3 separate regions of the Homo sapiens genome follow, and all the other regions are reported to be linked to region 1. The links are microRNA targets in miRTarBase. Many come from high-throughput screens and were not tested one by one. Region 1 holds a microRNA gene; each other region holds the end of a gene's coding sequence.
What was found. The annotated mature microRNA hsa-miR-4724-3p reads GUACCUUCUGGUUCAGCUAGU and lies in region 1 at 3,634-3,654, opposite strand. An mRNA with a match to its seed (bases 2 to 7 or 8) in the 3' UTR can be bound and repressed. Matches are read on the target gene's strand: a 7mer-m8 pairs with bases 2 to 8, a 7mer-A1 pairs with bases 2 to 7 and ends in A, and an 8mer does both.

Region 2: the mRNA of COA4 is a reported target of hsa-miR-4724-3p. The part of its 3' UTR that is shown has no 7-base or 8-base seed match.
Region 3: miRTarBase lists XPOT as a target of hsa-miR-4724-3p. Seed matches in the 3' UTR shown: 7mer-A1 at 1,777-1,783.

Annotation. Positions count from the first base shown.
Region 1 is chr17:31,533,369-31,538,594 of GRCh38, reverse strand. MIR4724 (microRNA 4724) reads right to left here and starts at 3,712; the gene lies at 3,624-3,712. It overlaps RAB11FIP4 (RAB11 family interacting protein 4), which reads right to left. Exons shown (of 15, transcript NM_032932.6): 15 at 384-5,226. RefSeq lists enhancers at 136-205, 2,785-3,084.
Region 2 is chr11:73,868,510-73,873,735 of GRCh38, forward strand. It overlaps COA4 (cytochrome c oxidase assembly factor 4 homolog), which reads right to left. Exons shown (of 2, transcript NM_016565.3): 2 at 4,158-4,885. The coding sequence starts at 4,869. The coding sequence ends at 4,606. Among named protein-coding and RNA genes, the nearest start is that of COA4, 5.7 kb to the right of the region's middle.
Region 3 is chr12:64,447,044-64,452,269 of GRCh38, forward strand. It overlaps XPOT (exportin for tRNA), which reads left to right. Exons shown (of 25, transcript NM_007235.6): 25 at 1,062-4,082. The coding sequence ends at 1,088. It overlaps TBK1 (TANK binding kinase 1), which reads left to right and starts at 5,077. Exons shown (of 21, transcript NM_013254.4): 1 at 5,077-5,144. RefSeq lists a silencer at 4,948-5,226.

The sequences.
Region 1 (5,226 bases):
GGCCGTCACCCTGGGGAGCCACAGCGGCGGACATGGAGGGAGCATGGCACTGGGACCCCACTGGACCCCTAGGAAGACCTCAGTGGGAAAGAACATAGCCACACAAAGGACAAAGTTTCCAAACATCATAGCCCTGTGGCTGGAATGGTGGCATTAAAGAGGCTTCTGGGATCCACGTCTTCTCCCCTAGGGACTGAAGAGTGACACCGCCCCACTCCACCCTGCCCCTGGGGGACAGCACCAGCCACCCTGGGAACCACAAACTTGGTGGGGGGCAGGGGGGTTGCTCTTTTTAAGGGAGACCATCTGTCCCTGTGAGCCCTGGAACCAGGCCTCTTCTGCCCACCCTCCCCCAACCACAGAAACTCATGGTTCAGTCAGGCGAGAAGAGCAAACTGTTTATTTACACCTTGGTCTGTACAGTACAGCTCCCCGGGAGGAGCCTGCCACCAACAGCCTGTTCCTTTTGGGGCAGAAGCAGGTTGGAGGCAAAGAGCTCAGACCCTGGACAGCCTCAGGGCCTCACCCCCACTGTCCCCTCCCTGGGGCCCACAGGGCAGGTCCCACCCCAGCACTAAAGCTAAGCCTGTTTCCAGACAGAGCCTCCTGGGGCAAAAAAGTCAAGTTGAATCCCACAGAGTCAGAGGCCATCTAACAAACCCTTGGGCATGAGGCCACATGTGTAGTTCATTCCACGTAGGCCTCAGAAGACCCAGCCAAGAAAGTGGGAGGAGCTGGAAGGGAGCCCACAGCTGTGAGTCCTTGGCAATGCACCGTCCGCTCCGTGACATCAGTTGGTATTTAATGGCACTCTGGTCTGAGCACCTCAGCAGACAAGGAAGGGCTGGGCAGGTGTTCACAGCAGGCAGGGGCAGCAGCTAGCACCTCTTCCTTCTGCCCAAGTGGGGCCCGCAGCTGTTCTAGACACCAGATGTGGTGGCCTCAAGGCAGGCCTGTGGCCGTGCACCAGGAACCATGGACAGGGCTTCCTCTGGGGGCAGAGACAGTGCACGGAGCGGCTGCGGTCCCATGATATCCCTGCTGGGGCCAATGCCCCAGGTTAAAGAGTGATGCTTTGCCCGACATCACTAACAATGCAGGGAAAGCTCTGTGGGAGAAGCTGCTTTACACAAAGTTGCCCTTTTCTGGAATGCAAGGCTCCTAAATTAGCTGCAGGCTGGAGGAGGGACTAAGTGGGTCCTAGCCCCCCATGCTTAAGACAATAATGAAAGATTCTGTACAAAGTTACCAAGTCTACAGGCTGAGCGAGCCAAGGGTAAGTGGGGCCTGATCCTTGTGGACGAATGTGCCCGGGAGAGCTGGCCTCACCTGGGGGAGGCACGTTGAAAAAGTACACATTTACAGGGCTCGGGAAAGGCCAGGGAGATGAGACGATGTAGAAAAGGAGGCAGTGGGCAATGTGGAAAATCCTGTACAGTGGCGATGGGGAAGAAAAGGCACAAGGACAAAGACCCCAAACCATGCAGATGAAAACAGCCTGTGCAGCACAGCAAAGCGGATGGGCCCCAGCAGGAGGCAGGGTCACCCTGGGGACAACAGCACTTGGATCCTGCAGGAGACATGGCCTGGATGCCATCCCCAGCTGGTAGCTCCGGGGCAGACATCTCTACCTTACAGATGGGGAAAGGAGCAACCTACGAGGTCGGGGCAGGGAGGTCATATGGGAAACCTCGCCTGGTGAGCATGGTGACATTATACTTCCCCAGGGTCTACGCTTTTAGAAACAAATCTTTCTAGAAGGCAGCCTATTTTCTCTGGTGGGTAGCAGAGAATATGGCAGAAGGGCCTCAGAGTTGTCCTGCCATGCAGGTAGGGCAGGCTCCTGGTTCCAGCCTCTCCCGCTTCCTGCTGGCTGCCCCATTCATGTGTGCACCCAGGGCAGGAAGTGAGGACCTGGCAGGTCCCTAGGATCAGCGCTCAAAGTCATCCACTGACGGCATGGCCCTTCTAACTTGAGGCCCCTTGGCGCAGCAGACCTCAGTCTTCCTAGCCAGCAGCGTCACCCTAGAGGGGATTTCCTGGGTCCCAAAGGGAGGGCCAGAGTCTGGGAGAAAGGACTGTGGAGGATACCAGCACTGAGTCCTAAGTGGCCCCTTTCCTCAATCTAGAATCCACAGTAGCCCTTGAGAAAGAGTCGCTGTGGATCTGCTGGGCAACCAAAGTCATTTTCTTGGCATGGTGACCACGCAAAACTTTCCTGGTATGATCACATCGAAAGTTACTTTTTGTTTTTTTAAAAAAATAAAGACAAGAGTTTCACCATGTTGTCCAGGCTGGTCTCGAACTCCTGAGCTCAGGCAATCCACCTGCCTTGGCCTCCCAAAGTGCTGGGATTACAGGTGTGAGCCACCGTGCCCGGCCTAGAGTTAGTTTTTAAGTTTAAATTTGCTAATGCATTAAACCCCACCACACACACAGGACACAGAGGGCTTCATTTCTCCCAGTTTCACCTGGCCCTGCTGGCCCCTGGAGGCTTCTGCTAAGTCCCTCATTGGAACCAAGAACCCGCGCTTCTGTCCCCGCGCCCCCCCCCCCCAACTCCCCTGAACACCAGCACCAGTGGACTAGCACCTGGAGTGTCCGGTGTGTGAGTAGGATGCTGGTTTGGCTAACAGGGAACGAGCTGGGACTCCCTTTATCAACCCAGTCAGGAAACAGACCAGAAGCAAAACCCACAAAGACAGTATGTCCTCCTGCTCAGCTATGCAAATAGGTGGCAGCTGTTTCTGCGGCTGCTTTCAGGGGGACAGCCCCACCTGTCAGTTCCCTGCTGACTCTGTTCTACCTGCTCTTTGAGATGAGCCTGTAGCCAGTATATCCCAACACATGCCACCCACTGATTCCAGGGGCACCAGGCCAAGGTCCTGCCCACCCACTCTGGTCTGCTAACCTCCAGGCTGGTGAGAACAGCTGGATCCACCAGCTCCTGAAGGCATCTGGCCTCCCATCCTGCAGGCCAGGACCATTCAACAACAGGAAAAGGAACCCTCCCAGCAAGAGAGCTCACTGTCATTCAGCCACGGGCTTGACAAGCCCAACAGCCACTTTGACCAGTTTCCTCTACCTCTGGCCAACGACCTTGCAGGACAGGGCAGTCTCAACCTCGGACTGCATATCATCACCTGGGGAGGTCTTTACACATCTCGATGCCTGGACCACACCCCACACCAATTCAATCCGAACCTCTGGGGGTTCAGCCCAGACAGCAGAAGCTTACAAATCTCCCCAGGTGATTCCAATGCACAGCCAAAGCTGAGCCCACTGTTTTAGGCCCTCGTGCAGGTTCTTGAGCTTTTTTTTTTTTTTTTTTAACTTTTGGTAGAGACAAGGTATCACTATGTTGCCCAGGCTGGTTTAGGACTCCTGAGCTCAAGTGATCCGCCTGCCACTGCCTCCCAAGTGCTAGGATTACAGGCGTGAGCCACCATGCCTGGCCTGTTCATGTTTTAATAGGTCAGAAATAAAGTCATGAAAAGGAATTTCTCTGTGACAGTTCGCAAAGAATTCTACCAATTTAAAATAAAATAATCTAGGATAAACTCTGGCCAATTCAAAGCTAAAAGAAAAAAACATTTTTACTAGAAGTTTCTTAAAGCCTCTCAACGCACAGGGACTAGCTGAACCAGAAGGTACTTCATTTTCTAATAGATAATGTACACGAAGCTCACTCCTGGTTCAGTTCATTTTGCGTGGCTTCCAACTGAACGCAAGGGCAGCTCAGGGCCATGTAAAATCTGAGTCTACTACAGAAACCCTCGCCCCACCCCCAAAACACCTCTAAATTTCAGATAAGTTACTGCTAATCCCTACTCGGTAGGGTTGCCAGGTTTAGCAAAAACAATAAAAACAAACAAAAAACCCAAGTAGGACACGCAATTAAATTGGAATTACCTGAGCAGCTCTTTAAAAAATCCCATGCCTGGGCTACACCCACAACAATCAAACCAGAACGTCTGAGGATTCAGTCTAATCATCAGAATTTTTAAAATCTCCCCATTTCAAATATGTCCTGGCCAGGCATGGTGGCTCATGCCTGTAATCCCAGTGCTTTGGCAGGCTGAGGTGGGAGGATCACTTGAGGTCAGCAGCTCGAGTGAGGCAACACAGTGAGACCCTGTCTCTACAAAAAATAAGAAAAATTAGCTGGGCGTGGTGGTGCATGCCTGTAGTCCCAGCTACTCAGGCAGTTAAGGCGGGAGGATCGCTTGAGCCTGGGAGTTCAAGGTTGTGGTGAGCTATGATCATACCACTACACTCCAGCCTGGGCAACAGAGCAAGATCCTATCTCTAAAAATAACATCTGTCCCATGTATTAGATAGAACATATTTATTCTAAAATTATTTTCTATCTGAAATTCAAACTTAACTGGGCATCCTGTCTACTACCTCGCAGCCCCACTACTGAGGGGTAAGGGCAGAAACAAAGATCAAGCTCCTACCACCTAGGCTCTGGGACCTGCCACCAAGGGGTCTGGGATCTGCCAGGGGCTGTGGAGCTGGGACACCTGGGGCATCTGCCCCCTCAAGCTAGCTTTTGAGCCCAGAAGAATATTTTTACAAACATACACCATCTTTAAAAGCCAAGCAACAAGCCAGGTTTTACAAGAAATGTATTCTGGCTGAAGAAAGTAAGGTTGGACTTGAGGTGTGTGTGAGCTGGAATTCAGCCCCCCATTTAAAAGCCAGGCCTGCTCCAGAGGCCCCTCTGGCACTGCAGCAGGTCCCGGGGGCCTTTCAGACGCCGGCTCCCTCCGGAGCCTGTTCCCATGGCGCCCCTTAGAGGGAGGAGCCTGAAGCACGCCCCAGGCTGCCAGCTGCTTCCGCCCACCTTTCCCGTGGCAGAGATTCCTTCCCACGTTGTGACTCAGGCTGTGTAACCCAGGCCTCTGCAGCCTTCTCTGAAATTCCAATGCAGCCAAAGGGCAGATAACATTTTACAGATAAAATACTCAACCCTGGGGTAAGGCCCCCACGCACCAGTACTCCTTCTGACCTAACACCCAGGCCAAAGCTATGTCAGGATCTGTCTTGTTCCTTTCAGCCGTGGCCACTCCTTCCTATTGGCAAATTCTCAAGAGACCCTCTCCTCATGCCTTCTTCCACTGCCTCTTCGCAGAACCCTTGGGGGAGCCCAAGGAGACCCGCGTCCTAAGGGGCTGAGAAACTCCTAGAAGACCGACTGCCTAGCCTAGTCTTCCCAGTGTG
Region 2 (5,226 bases), not on the chromosome of region 1:
CTGACCTCAGGTGATCCACCCGCCTTGGCCTCCCAAAGTGCTGGGATTACAGGCGTGAGCCACCATGCCTGGCCAGATCACTAACTTTCAAGAAGGATAGGATGCCTGGGTAAAATGGGCAGTTTTCCTAGTTGAGGCCAGCAGATTTCTCAGCTTCGTTTTCATCCCTTTCCTCTGGCTGAGGATGACTTGTTCCTCCACCATGGAATCCTGGGAATGGCCAGCTGTAGATTCTGAAAAGGTATGTTTTAGACACAGAGAAACAAATCTAGGTATTTTGGCCACTCAGATACTAGCAATGCTGAGGCCCCTGGGTCCCCTCTGTTTCTAGTGTACTTAAGGAAAGCTTTCTGAGCTTGTACTGGGTGTGCCTAGAACTAATCCTGATGGACAGACACTGGAGACAGAGGTGGCCAATGTGTCTTGTGCTTGTTTAATCTGTACTTTGATCTCTTTGTGAAATTTTTGTTTTCACGTGTCTGATCTTCTTGCAGAATCTGAAATGATTCATTTGACTATAATAATCCCCGTGGAGTAACTTTCATTCTCAGACATTTCAGCTCATTTTAGGAAATCAGCTCACCATTTAGACAGAGTGCCCAGGATCTGAAGAATGAAAACTCTTCAAAAGATAGCTGCTGACAGGGAGGAATCCCTGCTACTTCCTCTGCTTGCTTTAAGTCCTTGCTGAGCGAGGAGGGAGCCCCAGCATTTTCTACAGGAAAATTAAAGGATTCAATCTGGACTTGCTTCAGTTCTCTTTGGGTTTCTGAAGTCAGCAGCTCAAGGACTTAGTCTGGCAACTTTATGGAGAGAGGGTGGGAGGAGTATCTTCTTACTCATCTAGTAAAACACATTGCAGTGCACCTTTGTACCGAGCACAAGGCCAAGTCCCCAGCCAAGGACCTTGAAAGGAAGGGCTAAGGCTAAACCATGAGTCTGCCCTAGGCCTAGCCAAGATAGGCATCAAGCCAAGAGGTCTCTCCACTCATCCCTGGCACCAAGCCTCTAAGCAGAGGCAACCCAAAGCTGCCAGAGTTAGATCCTATAGGGACAGGTATGAAGCACCTTAAAGTTCAGCTCCTAGATTGTGGGCTGCAGAGCTGAGACTAAAGAAAAACATACCAAGCTATATCACTGTGGGCAACTTGCACTAATTAATTGCAAAAAGTTAATTTCCTTTTTGCAAAGTGCTGACAAAAGCAAAGTAATATTTACACAGTCAATGTGGTTACTCACTACTGTGTGTTAAGCACTGTACTGGGCAACAGATGCTTGTGAGAGTAGAGTAGAAAACAGCCTAGGCTTTAGAGCAAGACATACTTGGAGTCTGATCCCCAGTCTGAGCTTTATTTCCTCATCTAAAGGAGAGTGAATGCCATGTTCAGAGGATTACAAATTAGATTAGATAATGTAACTCAGGACAGTCACTAGCACACATTAATAGTGATGATGGTAATAGCTAACGTTCACTGAACACTTACTATGTGCCAGATGCTGTTCCTAAGCTAAACCAATGTTTAACTCAATCTTTCAATAATCCTATGAGGAAGGCCTATATTCGTTTTGAGGCTTGTGAAAAAGGTACTATATATGCATTTTTACACAGGTAAAAACAGATCCTGGGATGTTAAATAACTTGTCCAAAGTCACAAAGCTAGTCAGTGGCGTAACTAGGATGTGAAGGTAGCACATCATTGGGATTGAGAGCAGGCTCTGGAACCAGATTGTCTCAGTTAAATGCCCAATAAATTTTAACACTTTTTATTATTAGTTACGTATGTTTCATTCCCTCATTTATTTGGCTTATGACATATGAATTATCCCCATTTATCTGAGGGAACAGGCTTGGATGGCAAGAGTCCTCTTTGCCTGATCAAATACGTTCTGTGACCCACCCCATGCTAACTCCCTATTAGAGCCAGTGTCCTTCAAAACATGCTTGCTCCACTTAGCTGGTCTGGAAGCCATCCTTCCTGCCAAAGAGGTCTTTTATGCTTCTCTCTGCTGCTATCACCCCCTCCTCCATAGCCTACTATTCTTTCTTACACAAAATACACGCATTCCTGTTATAAAAGATTTGAATACACAGCAAATAGAGTCCTTACTGATGGAAATTGACATTGGGACCATTTGTTTACTATTATAAACAATGCTGCAATGAACCTAATAGTATGTATGTCTTATAAAAATACATTTCTGGCCAGGCACAGGGGCTCATGCCTGTAATCCCAACACCTTGAGAGGCTGAGGTGGGAGGATCACTTGAGCCCAGGAGTTTGAGACTACCCTGGGCAACATAGTGAGACCTCATCTCTACCAAAAACAAAAACAAAATTTCTCTTGATTATCCATGATATAGAGCATATTTAGTTTCCTATGTTTTGTGGTTTATTTGTTCACTATTTTTTTTTTTTTTTGAGATGGAGTCTCGCTCTGTCACCTAGGCTGGAGTGCAGTAGCAGGATCTCAGCTCACTGCAACCTTCACTGCATCCTGGGTTCAAGCAATTCTCCTGCCTCAGTCTCCCAAGTAGCTGGGATTACAGGCACACGCCTATCTAATTTTTTTGTGTTTTTAGTAGAGACGGGATTTTGCCATGTTGGCCAGGCTGGTCTCAAACTCCTCATCTCAAGTGATCCACCCAGTTCTGCCTCCCAAAGTGTTGGGATTACAGGCGTGAGCCACTGCGCCTGCCTTACTTGTTCACTTTGCTGTCAAACTATGTGCTTCTTGGTGGCTTCCAGGTACTTTTAATTCTGGATGGTAATCTTTTCTGTTATAATTTACAAATAGGTGATGTCTACTTCATCTTTATTATCTATTTATTTATTGAGACCGTCTTACTCCATCACCCAGGCTAGAATGCAATGGTGCGATCTTGGCTCACTGCCATCTCCACCTCCCAGGTTCAAGTGATTCTCCTGCCTCAGCCTCCCAAGTAGCTGGGATTACACTCAGCATGCGCCACCATGCCTGGCTAATTTTTTTGTATTTTTAGCAGAGATGGGGTTTTGCCATGTTGGCCAGCCTGGTCTTGAACTCCCGACCTCAAGTGAGCCACCATGCCTGGCCTACTTCAGCTTTAAAAGTTCAACTCAACTAATCTCTTCTCTTCTTTGAGATTCTTGCTGAAAACTCCAGTGCACACTGCTTGTTTCCTTTGATGAATCAGCACTGAGCACACACACATAGCGATTTGTCTTTATAATTTGCTGGTTATCCCCTTCAGCCAGAAATAGGATTGTTCTTTAAACTCCTACCTTCTCCCCTTTTCTCTTTACTTCTTCCCCAAATACTGGCATGAAGGTTCAAAGTAAATTTTAAGGCCTACTATACCTCAGATTTGGGCTTCTAATAGATCCTGAAGAAATATTTGTTATTGTCTGGGTGTGGTGGCTCACGCCTTTAATCCCAGCACTTTGGGAGGCTGAGGAGGGTGGATCACTTGAGGTCAGGAGTTTGAGACCAGCCTGGCCAACATGGTGAAACCCCATTCTCTACTAAAAATACAAAAATTAGCCGGGTGTGGTGGTGCTTGCCTGTAGTCCCAGCTACTTGGGAGGCTGAGGCAGGGGGATCACTTGAATTTGGGAGGCAGAGGTTGCAGTGAGCCGAGACTGCGCTACTGCACGCCAGCCTGGGCAACAGAGCAAGACTCCATTTCAAAAAAAAAAAAAAGAATAGAATGGAAGAGTCGTTTTGTTGAAGAAAAATGAGAAATGATATGCAACTGTTTTGAATGGGAAAACACAACCTACTTAAAGGGGGAGTTATTATTCAGCTCCAGCAAATTGTTAAGAGGGAATAAAAATCAATGTTGACATCTTCTCCCCTTTTCAAAAGCTGAAAATCTGTATTTTAGTGTTAAATATACTCTAAAAATGTTAGCCCAACTTTGTGTTTGTTGGGTTGGGAGCAAGTTAAAGCCAGACTTGGTATCTGTTAATTCAACAGAATCTGGCATTTAATAGGTACTCAATGTTTGAATAATTAGCTGGGTGTGGTGATGCACACACCTGTGGTTCCAGCTACTTGAGAGGCTGAGGTGGGAGGATGGCCTGAGCCCACTGAGGATGCAGTGAGCCCTGACTCCACCACCACACTCCAGCCTGGGCAACAGAGACCCTGTCTCAAAAAAACAAAAGAAAAACATATTTGAATAAAAAGTTTCCCCATTTATTTTTCCTTCCACTAAACTGATTGAAACATCCAGAACAAGTGATGAAAGAGAAAGGCACTAATTAGGTAATCAATTTACCATTAGATTGTAAATTTAATTTAAAATAAAATGTCCCTAAAATCATCTCAGTACTTGGCACACTGACTTAAGATGTGGGGTGGGGGAGCATCCCTTAACACATTCTTTGTTTTCCTGGTAAATACTGGTGGAACAAGACAGCTGAGAATGTATGACATCTGACCATGAACATATGACAGCTGTTTGTGCCAGTCATGTCCAAACCCATGGCTCTCAACTCCAGATCCAAAAACTCTCCCCATGTTTTAGACCTCCCACACCAGCATTTAGGATTTCTTCCTCTATAATCTTGCTGGGTGCTGGTCTTGGCAGGGCCATCTACTGGGGATAGGTGGTTTGGGGTCTCAGTGGTGGGCACCGGCTTGTTCTTGCCTCCTCTGCAGCTCCTCTTGCCGCCTCGCCTGCTGTTCACTCATGCAATCCTTGAACGCCTGCACCTGTGGCTGGCATTGCCGCCAGTCCTGGTGCTGGGCCATGCACTCCTGCACTGCAAAGTGGGAGGCAGCACAGCCAGAGCGGGAGATCAGCTGGTCCAGCGGGTCCTCCTCCTCATCGTCTTTCTTCACCCGTTGGGTCCAGGTATGGCCTTGAGGGACTGAGGTTGACATCCTGGGGATGGGGAGTCTATAGAACATTAACAGGTTAGAGTAGGGATATAATATGTAAGGTTCCTAAATTATAAATAGCACTGACCAGACTGCACCATTTAGCCTGTTTAATGTGTCTGTCTCCCGTGGGAGACTCTAAGCTTGAAGACAGATGCTTGTTTTTTTTTTTTTTTTTTTGAGGGTGTCTTGCTTTGTTGCCCAGGCTCACTGTAGCCTCCATCTTTAGGGATCAAGCAATCCTTCCCCCTCAGTCCCTCCCTGGCCAGAGTAGCTGGGACTACAGGTGTGCATCACCACTCAGCTAATTTTTTTGATTCTTTAATAGAGACAAGGTTTTTCCATGTTGCTCAGCATGGT
Region 3 (5,226 bases), not on the chromosome of region 1:
CGTGGATGGCAGCAGGCAAAGAGAGAGCTTGTGCAGGGAGACTCCCATTTTTAAAACCATCAGATCTTGTGAGACCCATTTACTATCAGGAAAACAACATGGGAAAGACCTGCCCCCATGATTCAATCATCTCCCACCCGGTCCTTCCCACAACACATAGGAATTATGGGAGCTACAAGATGAGATCTGCGTGGGGACACAGGGTCAAACCATATCATTGTCCTTACTGAGAACACTGAATTATGTCTGGTGCTCACCTGACCTGCCATGGATGGCAGCATGTAGTACTAGGCCATGCCTAGCACAGCCTCTAGCCAACTCCTTTGTAGTCTCAAATTTTGACTTGGAAGTACTTTTGAATCATCAAATAAATAGTAAATTCCTTACAGAGTTAGAACTGCTATGTTTAGCTTTGACTTGTTTCCTCCTCAATATTTAATTTTTTTTTTTTTGAGACGGAGTTTCACTGTTGTTGCCCAGGCTGGAGTGCAGTGGCACGATCTCGGCTCACCACAACCTCTGCCTCCCAGGTTCAAGTGATTCTCCTGCCTCAGCCTCCCGAATAGCTGGGATTACAGGCATGCACCACCACACCCGGCTAATTTTTTCTATTTTGAGTAAAGACTGGGTTTCTCCATGTTGGTCAGGCTGATCTCAAACTCCTGGCTTCAGGCCTCGGCCTCCCAAAGTGCTGGGATTACAGGCGCCGTGCCCGTCCTCAATATTTAATTTACCAGTGTTAATTTGGAAATAGTACCAATCAGTAAAAAGGTGTCAAGAGCTTGTTTTCTTCTGACCACTTGATTTCTATAGCATAGAGATAACACCATATTTTCACTACTTCCCCAGTTGGGTGATGTCAGCATAAGTTATATCTACACTTACCAAACTCTCCAGAACAGAAAGTTCTTAGCTTGGATTACATACGGATATATAAGGCATGCGAAATGTTCTAATGTTACAGAAGAACATTGCTAGCACTCAGATACTTGGAGCCATTCTTCAGGTGAAAGTGATATCTTCTGACATTAGTATTGATTGCATTAATACTTTATTTACAGGTGTTCTTCCAGAGAGCAAAGCCCTGAGGACTGGATTTCCCTGTGCCTACTTCATGATCATGAATTCCAGTTAATTTATAAAGAGGCGATTTTTGTGTGCCATTCACACTGGTCTTTTTCACATTGTTTTGAGCTTATTGCAGTATATGTTTTGGGATTTTTCTGTAAAATGGGTGTAATTTTCCTAATACAGGTATGTAACAACAAAAGAAGTTGCCTGCATGCCGGTCCAAATTGTTCTGTATAAAGATGCTCTTAAAAGACACAAGAGTTATCCTAGAACCTTAATTCTTTTTTATTTGAAATTTTAAGTCAAGTCCTTTATAAAGACCATAGCAGTGGAAAACAGTGTACTTTTTAAAAAATTGCTGAATATAAAATCTTTGAAAATTTTCTTTATGTGTGAAGACACAAAGTATGGGGGAAGACAGCAATCAAAACTAACTTTTTGTAGATAGCCATTTCATTTCTTTAAACTGTTTCAACGCCAATATGTATTCTACAAAAGAGAATGGTTTTAGGCTCCAGTGTTATACTTTTTTTTATATATATATATAAAAATAAACTTTACGTAGTGAAATCTTCCAAGTCTTTTCTGGAATTATTATAAATACTTTAGTTTTATTTTCTCATCTTAATCTCTCCATAATTTCCCATTTAAAGGTTTACAAATATGAGTGTGTGGATGCTTTAATTCATTTAACCTCACTCCTCAAAGGTAACATGCAACTTAGTTCTGTTATATGAGAGTCTTTTTCTTTAATGTACTGGAAAAAGCCTATGTGAATCTGTTGATAGAATTTAAAATTCCAGGCCGGGCGTGGTGGCTCACGACTGTAATCCCAGAACTTTGGGAGGCCAAGGCAGGTGGATCACTTGAGGTCAGGAGTTCGAGACTAGCCTGGCCAACATGGTGAAACCCCATCTCTACTAAAAATACAACAGCCAGGTGTGATGGTGCACGCTCGTAATCCCGGCTACTCAGGAGGCTGAGGCAGGAGAATCGCTTGAACCCGGAAGGCAGAGGTTGCAGTGAGCTGAGATTGTGCCACTGCACGCCAGCCTGGGCAAGAGAGTAAGACTCTCTCTCAAAAAAAAAAAAAAAGAATTTAAAATCCCAATTTATTTTCTAACTCTTTTATTGGATGTATTTAGAACACAGTATACCTATAGTATACCTATGTGTTTATTATGTTTGTAAATGGTAACTGACATTTAATTATTAGAAGTACTTACCCCTGCCTTCCTCCATTTTTATTCATGGCTACTTGAGAAAGCAAAAGGAAAAAATAATAGTTATCAGTAGTGTCACTGGAAAGAAGAGAGGAGGGACAAAACTGAGCAGCAGAATTCGTATAGACATTTACGTTTAAATTCTAAAAGCCCAATTGAGATGTTCAGGGAGGGTTTGTTTTGCCCTTTGGCCTCATGAATGGGTTTCATGAATGGGCTTCAGTGGCTTATAAACTCTGTAAAATTCTATTCTAAATTTTGTACATTTATTTTGTTCCGGTTAATTCCAGAAGACATTTCAAACATTTTTCTTACACCATATAATAAAAATACTTAACTAAATTGACAGTTATAAAAATAAATCAGTGAAATGTACCTTATACTTTAATAAAAAATGTTTTCAGAAATAGATAAGTGAAAGCTGAGTGTTTCTTTGATAGGTTCCCCTGTACTATAGGAGTGATAATTGCAGCTATTGCAATAGTAGTAATTGTTAAATGGATACTAATGAATAGCATAGCATAGTGGGTAAGAGTTTATATAGCACAGGCTCTAGAATCAGATTAAGTAGGTTCAAATACCAGTTCTGCCAGTAACTGGTTTTAGAACCTTGGGCAAGTTAAAGAATGTCTCCCAGCCTCAGTTTCCCTATTTGTAAAATGGAAATAATGGTAGCTACCTCAAACCTCATTACGAATTCAATGAGTTAAACTTGAAAAGACTTATTACAGTAGCTGGCACATAAAGACTTGATAGTAGTTTATATGGATGCTATCTCATATTAGCATATATGGAATTAATAGTGTATCACTATACTTTTTTTTTCTTTTTTTTTTTTGAATAGAGATCAGTCTATCACCCAGGCTGGAGTGCAGTGGTGACATCATAGCTCACTGTAACTTCTCCCATACTCTACCAATCCTCCTGCCTCAGCATCCAGACTAGCTGTGATTACAGGTGTGCACCACCACACCCAGCTACATTTTTTTTTGGTAGAGACAGGGTCTCACTATGTTACCCAGTCTGGTCTCAAACTCCCGGCCTCAAGCAATCCTCCCACTGGCCTCACAATGTTGGGATTACAGGTATAAGCCACTGCACACGGCCTTACTATGCTATCAATTCCATATATGGAAAGGTGTTTTCCCTTTCAGAGCTCTTTAAAGCTCTGCAGAAGATTTACATGTGTTTATAGAGCTAAGAGAAATCAGGGCATGGAAATTGAGTGTGTAATAAAAATTAAACTCTTCATGTTATATAATCATGCATAACTTCTATCTTCATTCTCTGAAGTTGCCTAGAGCACCATCACAGCTAGGAAGCTTCCATCATGAATTACCTTATTTCCAAAAGCAAGTACTCAAATAATTGTCTCAAGAGAGGAAGGACAAAACTGTTACAAGCTGAAATATTTGGGGATTTGTTTGACTTGACTAGGGAACCACAAGTTTTCATATAATGCCTGATTTAGCCCTGTGCCTAACAGTTTAAATCTTAATGCTAATGTTAATTGCTTCCCAGTTGGTTGACCTTATAAGAAAACACTGTGTGGTATTTTAATGTGGTAAACATGTGAATGAAGGCCTGTGGCTCAGTTAATCACTCCCACAACTTTGAGCTGTGAGTTTTACTGGTGGAAGGAACTTTAACAGGTCTTCGCTCTTGTCATTAGATATCAAAGAACTGAAATTAGTTGGAATTGTAAGCAGTGAATAGATGTGTTGTTAGAATGATTCCATCACTTATACATTGTTTAAAATGCTAATAAAGTAACTTGCTTTGTAAGAATTCATTAGAGTGGACTTTTGTTATCTCCATTGTGCATTTGATAAAACTGAGGCTTAGAGAGGTAAGAGATTAGCTTTTAAGTCAGTAATTGGCAGCCGAGACAGCAACCCTAGGTCTGTTACATTCAAAAGCCTCTGAGCCACTCCGCATGACTTCCCATTCATTCGTGTTTGCTGCTGCTACTCTGGGAAACACCATCTTCCTCTTCCCCTCCACTCAGAAATTTAGCCCTAGATTAGCAGCGGTCTCTGCTCCCTCATGTTGAGAAAGGCCTGTTGTGCTGTCCGTGGGCAGAAGGGACCCCTTCAGAAAGCTATTCCTTATTGGGAATAGCGGCTTGAGATTTTGACTGCACGAATATTGCAGGACCTAATTTTAGTATTTAAGTTTTAGTTCTTAAATTCTTAAGTTTAGAGTTAGATACTCCAATACGGCCGTTTTCCAAAATACCGAGAGGGAATTAAATGAACATTTTTACATTAAGAATTTAATGTATTTCTGGGTGATGGGAAAATGAAAAAAACAATGTAAAGTCTGAATTACTGCGAGACGATAATCTGGCTCCACTGCAGCCAAAGTGGGCCCTTAAAACATAGAATCCATCCCTCCCAGCTCTGCCGGCCGTCTGTGCCTGCCCCCCACGTGTCCCACGTTCTGCACACCTGTAAATCTTGGGATGTAATCCCTTGCTCAGCGTCGGTCCGCCCTACTGTCGGCCAGCGCTCGGGGAAGGGGCGGGATTTGCAGTTGCGGGAATCCCAATTACTGTGTTCGCTGCTCAGGGCTCCTCATTCCCCTTTAGAGTAAAGGGCGAGGGCAACAGTGGACGGGGTGTCTCCAGACATCCCCCTCATTACCGTGGCCGCGGAAGCCGACTCGGCAGTTGCCGCCGCGGCTGTGGTGACTACCAGACGGGCCATAGGCGTGCGCACGCGCACCCGCACCGGCGCGCCGGCCGTCGGTCACGTGGCCTCCGGCCAGGGCTTGCGAAGCCGGAAGTGTCCTGAGTCTCGAGGAGGCCGCGGGAGCCCGCCGGCGGTGGCGCGGCGGAGACCCGGCTGGGTAAGTGAGACGGCCGCGGGCTGAGGGGCCAAGGCGGCGCGGGGCGCGGTCGGTCAGGCCTGCGCCGCCCGGCGGGGAGCGC